2 linked regions of the Homo sapiens genome follow. The protein of the gene in region 2 purifies or fractionates together with the protein of the main gene of each other region. This does not show direct contact. Each region holds a gene or a part of one and is shown on either strand. Other genes may lie near its edges.

The links. The genes of interacting proteins can lie anywhere in the genome.
Region 1: the proteins of DCDC1 (region 2) and PCDH7 purify together in Homo sapiens (affinity purification with mass spectrometry; one large-scale study listed by BioGRID and IntAct). This does not show direct contact.

The regions. Positions count from the first base shown.
Region 1 is NC_000004.12:30,919,369-30,923,238, forward strand, and holds part of PCDH7 (protocadherin-7 isoform d precursor), read left to right. Parts: intron 1-784; coding exon 785-1,001; intron 1,002-3,870.
Region 2 is NC_000011.10:31,366,557-31,371,413, reverse strand, and holds the start of DCDC1 (doublecortin domain-containing protein 1), read left to right. Parts: upstream 1-1,674; 5' UTR 1,675-1,717; intron 1,718-4,857. Other genes in the region: DNAJC24 (dnaJ homolog subfamily C member 24), read right to left, coding at 555-665. UniProt on the Homo sapiens protein: Microtubule-binding protein which plays an important role in mediating dynein-dependent transport of RAB8A-positive vesicles to the midbody during cytokinesis.

The DNA.
Region 1 (3,870 bases), on a different chromosome or scaffold from region 2:
ATTGTCAGTAACATAGTAAATTGTGGAGTTCAACTGGATAGTTTCATAAAATTTTTTAAAAACAAATTAAAGGCTGTACATGATTTTACTTTATTGAACGAATCACAAACAGTAATATTAAGAACATACAATTAAACTTTATAGTTTATTTCCTACTCACTGTTTAGGGATACTTTTATCTATTATTGCAATATGACTCTTACAATTTCAAGGTCCATAGGCAATATTTTTATAGGAATGATGTAATAAACATATTTGTGTTTCCTAGCACTGCATCTAAATTCCTATTTGTCAGCTGTACTTTGAACAGTTTAAGTCAACTGCCAACCCATTTGATTTTATAGCTTTGTATGATATGGACAAAGTATTTAAAAATTGAGTCTTCTTACAATGGATTAGTTCAATATTTACTGCCTTCACAAATCACTGACCTTGTTTTTTTAGAGGCCATTTCTGGAAAGCATATCTGAAGTGAATACTATAGAATAGAAAAAGGTTGAATATGTGGAACTAACATATCAGATTTAAATGTATGTTTTAGTGAAATTACTGTTTTTTTATCTCTGTTTCTGAAAGGGAATTTCCAGTTTTTCCATAATAAAATCTAAGCTCTAGACATTGCCTTAGATAATACATAGTTAACTAATGCAGTTTCAACATATCTATTCATTTTGTATTGAATTAGTTGCCAGTAGACCTTAATGTATGTAATTTATGTATTTTTTAAAATAAGATCATTTACAATCTTACATCGTAGTGACATTCAGAATCTTTTCTTTTGCAGCCATTTCGTAGAGTGACGTTTTCTGTTGTGAGTCAGCCTCAGGACCCACATCAGGGGTCACTGCAGAGTTGCTATGACAGCGGGCTGGAGGAGTCAGAAACACCAAGCAGTAAGAGTTCATCAGGGCCAAGACTGGGTGCGCTTCCACTCCCAGAGGACAACTATGAAAGGACCACGCCGGATGGCAGTGTTGGTGAGGCAGAGCATATGGAAAATGGTAGGGGCAAACACAACATCCACACACATAATCACGCTAGTGAGCCGTAATAAGTAGACTCGCGAAGGTCAGTCTAAAACCAAAATAAAATAGCTGACATTAAAACCATTTTATTTTAAGTGATAAATATTTGCTAAAATACAGAAATGCCAAATAAAGGAACATAACTCTGTAGATAAAATTCACCCAAATTGCACCATCATTTTAAAACATCCTGTCAGAAATAAACGCACTTATAAATAAATCAGAACAGGGCCCACTATGAAGGAAGCTAAATAAGTGCAGAATTCCTAAACAATAGTCACCAAGAAAGGTCTTGTCTAATTGTTTTCTTCTATTCATTTTTGTCATGCAACTATTTCTTCAATTGCAGCTGTCCAGTCTTAGTGAAAGGAAATGAAAGAAACATACCTTGCTCTACCTTTTCTTGTCCTAGATGTTTAGAAAAGCATTTTCAAACCTCTCCTTTCCTATGATCACTGAATAGGGTCAAAAGAGAACAGTACTACTTTGTTCTCCATAGTATGCAATAAATGCTATTAGAATTTCCCTCCTATTCAAGTATAAGGTTTTTTTTTATTTTTATGTGAGAGAAAGGAAGGAAAATAAATCATAATACTCCATATTTTTATACTGTTTTGAGGTGATTCTCATAATTACCACAATTGGCCTTGTATACATTTTCTTTTAAGTTATACATTTAGATTGCAAATAGCACTTATAAAACTTTCCACATTTGTTTATATTCCCAGAGATAATTTGGTGATTTATTTTCTGGATTTTGAGTCATAAGTAAATGCCTGAGGAATAGGTTTGTGTCAAATAATGGAATGGTAAAATTCATCCTAACTTCATTATTCTTTCAAATATGAAGAGAGAGATGGTTAAACAGAGAGAAAGGAAAGGAATCACACACATTTTATCCCTAGTAAAACTTGCAGTGGATTTATGTCTTTTGCCATCTCAACCCCCGAGTGACATAAGACGCTCTAACTTTTTGTTATATATCCGTTTCTTTAGTGCTGATATATATGCAAGTAGAGCATATTAATGCAGGAGAAAGACTGATTTTCTTCTGTAAGTTTACCTATGAATATTAAAATCCAATATTAGAATATAATATATTATAAAGGACCCCAAATGAAAGTATTGCTAAATTATATTATGCTAAATAATTATTTATCCACATTGTTCTTGGTTAAGAAAATATGATATCAGGGTCTGATGATTGACGTCCCTCTTGATTAATTTTGCAGAGTTAAAATGGCATTTTGCCTTATGGCTATAAAAGCATGCTTATCTGTGTGTATGGTGGTGTGTGCTTATGTGGATGGGAGTCTGGTGTGGTTTCTAAGAGTTACATTTTTTTTAGTAATTTTTTTAATGGGCATATAATTTTGGTATGAATTGCAATGCTGATGAATATATATTTAAGGCAGATATGTTTAAAATTATTTGGAAAAAGAAATTAAACTAAAAATACTGTAATTACATACATACTATGTAATTACATATGTAATTTGGATGTCAGCTTTATTAAAAAAGGACTTTGTACCCCTGGCATTATAATCATTTTTCAATGTTAGTTTCTGTTTTATGAGTTTATGGGGATTCATCACCTTTAAAATAAGAAATAAGTGATGAATAATTAAAAGATAATTATGTAATTACATGTATGTAGCCACATGTAATTGCATGTATGTAGTCACATGTACTATAGTGTATTACGTTACATATGTGTAACGTGTAATTACGTATGTGTGATATATGTAATATATAATATGTATATAGTACATATAATTACTTATATGTACATATGTATGTAATTACAGTATTTTTAATATAGATAGATGATAAATAGAGCATACCTAGGAAGGCAGGATTAATTTAATTTAGGGGTATTACTACATCTGAGATTACCTGTTCATGAGAACATATAATTTTGTTTGTGTTTTTAAAAGTGCTTATTCTTACTGTAAAGCACAGAATGTACAATTAAATCTTTATTTTTTGGATGTCAGCTTTATTAAAAAAGGACTTTGCACCACTGGCATTATAATCATTTTTTAATGTTAGTTTCTGTTTTATGAGTTTATGGGGATTCATCACCTTTAAAATAAGAAAGAAATGATGAATAATTAAAAGATAATTATATATGACAAACACATATCGGTTACCTTTTAGGAAACACACATGTCATGGAAAACTTAACAGGTGAGCTTGTTAATAAAATATAAAGTATACTGAGAAAGAGTTCCAAAAAACGACTTTTAATTCTTTTTTAGAACCAAGTTTTTAAGGCCTGTCAAAAGCAAGGGTCATGATAATGTAACGGATCTTTCCTGATTTTGTATGTGACCAACACTTGAAAGTCAGAGTTTATATGACCATTTGTCATCTACTGGCTGTGATTCATGTTAGCCTTGATCTATAGGTAATGACAAAATGAGATGCGATGCACTGTGGCTGATCTAAATGTAGCAGTTGACCTTTGAGTAACAAATTTGTTGGGTCCGTGTTTTCAGACTACTCATCTAGCCATAAAGTGCAATTGTGTTGCTTAAATTCTGGTAATTTCATCTTCAGTATTAATGGATCATTCTGACATAAATAGAATTGGAATTGAAACCTGTCAAGTATTCATTTGTCACATTTAATTGGAATCCAGGTAATCTGTAGTTTTTTGCTTGGCTAGGTTTTAATCAGGATTTGTATTGGATTTTCATTTGGATTTTCCATTAAAATACCATTTTGGATGCTGTGCTAGTTCCTAATTATTATTACCTCAAACATTTTTCTTGAATTTTAACCTATGTGAAACAATGCAGTTATCAGCAAGTGTTTGGGATTAACTTTCATTGTAAAGTTT
Region 2 (4,857 bases):
TTTAAGAAGTTTATCAGCAGATGGACACAGTAGAGGAAAAATAAAACCAGTGAACTTTAATCAACATAATCAACATAAAAATTGTTAAATTATTTTAATTCCTTTTAAATACTGTCTTTAAAATCCAGTGTATATTTTACCCTTACAGTCCATCTCAAGTCAGGCTAGCCACACTTCAAGTAATCAACAGCCACATGTGGCTAGTAGCTACTGTTGTTTATTATGTAACAACACTTCTAAATATTTTACATGGATTATTTCATTTAATCCTCCCTTGGCACATATAAGAAAAAGTAACTTGTCCAAATTCTCACAGATAAAGATGGACTCAAGATTCTAACTCAAGCAGCCTGACTCAGATCTCCTGCTCCTAACCATGCTTTTCCACCTCAAATCAAGTTTTTCTGCAATATTACTGAAATGTTCAATTAAATCAAATTAATACCTGGATTCCTGCCACTGGTATCCTATTTTCTGGAAACCTAAATTTGTGGTTTCATATAAAAATTGATTTTTTTCCCCTCATGATTTAAAATCTGAAAGAAAAGACTTACCATTAATATGAGTTTTTGATATTTTTGTTTTAGGTCTGATATATTTGCAGATGGGTCTGCTCCCAGGATGCTGTACCAATCCTTTTTTGGCATCTGCTCAACCGCCATCATCCATGGAACCAGAAGTGGGCCTTCTCAGATTAGCTGAATAGAAATATTAATGACAATTCATCACAGTTTGCCATGTATCTAAGAAAAAATTAAGTACTGCCCTTGTAAATTCTTTAGTATTTAGTCGAGTAAATCATGATTATAATGCAAACCTGAGGAAGCACAGATTTTCATTTAAAATGCCCCAAGAATTCCAGGTATAAGTGTACCGACAAGTATGGAAAACGTGTTAGGTATTTCACGATATATATTTATACTTTAATTAATGAACAGCATTAAAAAAAAGAATTTTATAATGAACCAGGTGGTGTATGAACCTCTAAGAAGGTATTTCTGCTAGTCTTATGATAAAACTGGCACACAAGTAAGCACCCACTAAACACGCTGGAGGAGCTTAATGAATATTTACAAAATGAACGAATAAAAAAAAAGCAAAACAGAACATCAAAGAATTAAAATAAATTTGGGGGCATTCCTTCTGAAAGTTTCTCGTTTGCTTTTCCTCCAGATTGTCTGGAGAGCATGATATGGGAAATAACGTCAGCACCAGCTGGTAGAGAACAAGAGTCCCCTGTTATTGGAGAGGCGCTGAGACCTCGCAAAGACAGAGTGAAACTCTCTACGCGAGGATGCCCCAGTCTTCCACGCTCCAGAAGAGAGACCCTACCAGGAGCCCCAGAAATCAGGCAACCTCTTCCCACAGCTATATACACTTAACGAAACAGCCGGGGCCTCCTCAAGCTCGGGACTTGGGAATCTTCTCCATTCACAGTCGGCTTTACCCACCCAGCCATTGGCGGGCACCCTCTCCGCGCTTTATACGACATCAGACCTACCTAACTTCACATAGGCGCTGCTACCCACTCCTCGCCTGCTGTCGGCCAGAACTCCGGACCGGCTTCTTCTTCCGCCGGAAGTCACTGTTCCGACGTGTTCGCGTTTCTGGCCGAGCTGATGTGGCCGTGGCACAGCTCAGAAGCGACGCTCCGCCCACCCCGACGCGGTCTCTATGGTAACCGGTCACCGCTTCTATGGAGTGGCGTTTACTACCAGTAAGTTCCCAAACTGTGAAGAAAGGCGCCTTTGGCTTCGCTCTAAGTCTCTCTTTTCCGGGCCCCGCGACTGTCGCTTCTCTCCTCCTCCTCAGCGAGCACCCCCTCGCCATCCCAGGCTTTCCCCGCCTTTTTCAAAGCTTCCTCCGTTTACCGTACCCTGAGCTACTCTCAATCTTTTCGGTTGGTGCTTGAACTCTGGGGTGAGAGAGGGGTGCGGGGGCAAGGATGTGAGAAGGATGAGGAGACCTGATGCCACTCTCGTCCCTACAGTTCCTTTACAATGTTCTAATTCGAAAATTAAAAGAACTAAAACCTATGCCAGGTAGGGCTAGATGTGCGGGGGATGGGGTCGGTTTAATTTTTTCTGCAGAAGATATTCGACGTAATTATTAATATTTCTTTTAGACCTTAGCAACCAACTTACAACATAAAAACGTTCCAAAATTCTTTCACATTTGCTATTTCACTTCGCTTTCATTTCAACCCAGTGAGACAAGTAAGGCAGGTGCCATTATTCCCACTTTATAGATGAGGAAAGAAATCAAGGATCAAGGCCAAACAGCTAGTTGGGTAGGGGCAGAACAAGGACTCAGCAAGTCTACACATTCCCAGGGCAGCTATGCTATCTTTCAAGCTTACAGAAAAAAGCAGAATGAACTGTTCTTCTTCGAAGCAGTTAGGGGGCACTGCATATGGGCACTGTTGGGGTTTGTTATTGTTGCTGGTGGTGGTGGTGGTGGTGGTGGTGGTGTTTTTCTCACCTTTCTTTCTTCTCCCTTTCTTGATTCCTGTGTTTCCTTTTATTACTTCTTTGTGCTGCTTACTTTACATTAACACCTCTTCCTAGCATTGTACCTGGAGATGAAAACTACATCTTATTTTTGGCCAGCATGACATAAATTTCACTTGGAGATGTTAAAATGGTTTTGTTGTTACTGCTTTGATTTTGCTTTCCTTCTTTTTTAAACTTCTACCAATCTGAGTTTGAGAAGCAGTCAAGATAAACTTAAGCAGAATAAATAAAATAATCTAATATGATCAGTTATTTAATGATGTTATGAACTATAAAGAATAACTGAATGAAACAAGCAAGTTTAAAAATCTAAAGATGAAAGCATAGATTAGGTTCTCCACAGGGTTTTGTCATGTTTAAAGGCAGATACAAAGAGCATCTGGTTTTAGTCCTGGCTGCATCATACTTTCTTGTGTGGCCTCATGAAAATACCTAAAGCAATGGAATTAAGTAGTGTGGTGAATGCTTTTCTAAACAGTACTGTCAGAATGATGCCACCTTGAACATCTCTAGCCCTCAAACTCCCTTCTGTCCACAGCTTGGTTCTTCCTTGTGTAGGTAGATATGCTCCGGTACTCCAGGTTTTTTGTTTTTTACAGCAAAAGCATTTTATTTTGATTTACTATTTATTAGGTTATTGTGTTACCTTATTTATTTATTGGGGTTTGGAAAGTAAGAAATAGTTTTTTTCCCCAGCAATACCAAATATTTTGTCATTTCATCTCTACATACTTTAGTTTGCATCCCTAAAATGTACCAACTTTTTCTTTTATCTCCATAATGTCATTATTGGACTGTCACATAATATCTAGACCTTACTTACATTTCCACGGTTAATTGAAAATGTCTTTTTCTGGTTGGTTTGCTTGACTCAGAATCAGACAAAATGTACACTTTCCATTTAGCTGTTCTGTCTCTTAAATATCTTTTAAATTATAGCAGTCCCATTTCTTCACTAGAACCTTGTTTTTTTCTTTACTTGCCATTGGCTTACTGAATGAGAACAGTTGTCTTACACTCTGCTTATACCAAAATAAACTTCTTAAAACAATTTTTACATAAATTTCTGATCATTAAGCTTCCTTCATTTTTCATTTTATAGAGCAGTACTTTCCAATAGAAATATAATGTAAGCCGTAAGTGCAAGCTACAAAATTAATTAATCTAAAAATTATTAAGGCGATACTTTACATTCTTTTCTCCTACTAAGTCTTCAAAAGCTGGTATGTATTGTGCCCGAACACACCTCAATTTGAACTAGCACATTTCAAATGCTCAGTAGCCACATGTGACTAGTGGCTACTGTATCCAGCAGGGCAGGTCTAGAGAATAAAGTCCTAACTCCTTAACCTAGCATTCAAGTTACCTCTTCAATATGATCCTTACTTTTCCAACCTCCCCTATTATCTCCATACATTAAACATTTAAACAATTGGATCTTTTCATGGTACTGAAATCAACCCAACAGTCCCATAGACAGGGTTTTGTTTGTTTGTTTAGTTTTGTTTATTGGGGTTTTTTAAATTAATAAACATAGAAATGGACACTTCTTTTCTGAAAGCTTGAAACTTGCATTTGTTTTATCTTTTTGTTTGCTTGTTTGAGACAGAGTCTTGCCCTGGTGTCCAGTCTGGAGTGCAGTGGCATGATCTCAGCTCACTGCAGCCTCTACCTCCCAGGCTCAAGTCATCTGCCCACCTCAGATTCCCAAGTAGTTGGGACCACAGGTGCATGCCACTATGCCTGGCTAATGTTTGTATTTTTTTTTGTAGAGATGGAGTTTCACCATGTTGGCCAGGCTGGTCTGGAACTCTTGAGCTCAAGCAATCTGCCTGCCTCAGCCTCCCAAAGTGCTGAGATTACAGGCATGCGCCACTGCGCCCAGCCACATTTTGTTGATCTTTATCTCAGTTCCTTCCTCAAGAAAGGATGCCCAGACCTCTCAACAAGTATCAAAGAGCTGAAACTCACCAGATTACTGCATCTAGACAGTGATATGCCAGACCCCTCATTCTTCGTTATTGTTTCCTTACCCTTCCTTAGTTCCTGTTTTCTCATACGTAGTTAACATTTCTTCCCTGTTATATAAACCCCTAATTTTAGTCAGTGAGGAAGGTGAATTTGACACTGATGTCCCATCTCCTTGGCTGCAGCATCTGATTAAAGCCTTCTTCTTTGACAATAATCATTGTCTCAGTGATTGACTTTTTGGGTGGTAAGCAGCAAGACATAGATGGAACTCCTGGTGTTTTGGTAACAGCATTTCATCAATAATTGTGTTCAAATGCTTCTCCTTACTTATAACACCCTAATTCTTTTCTTCCTCCTATCAGAGTAATCCCTG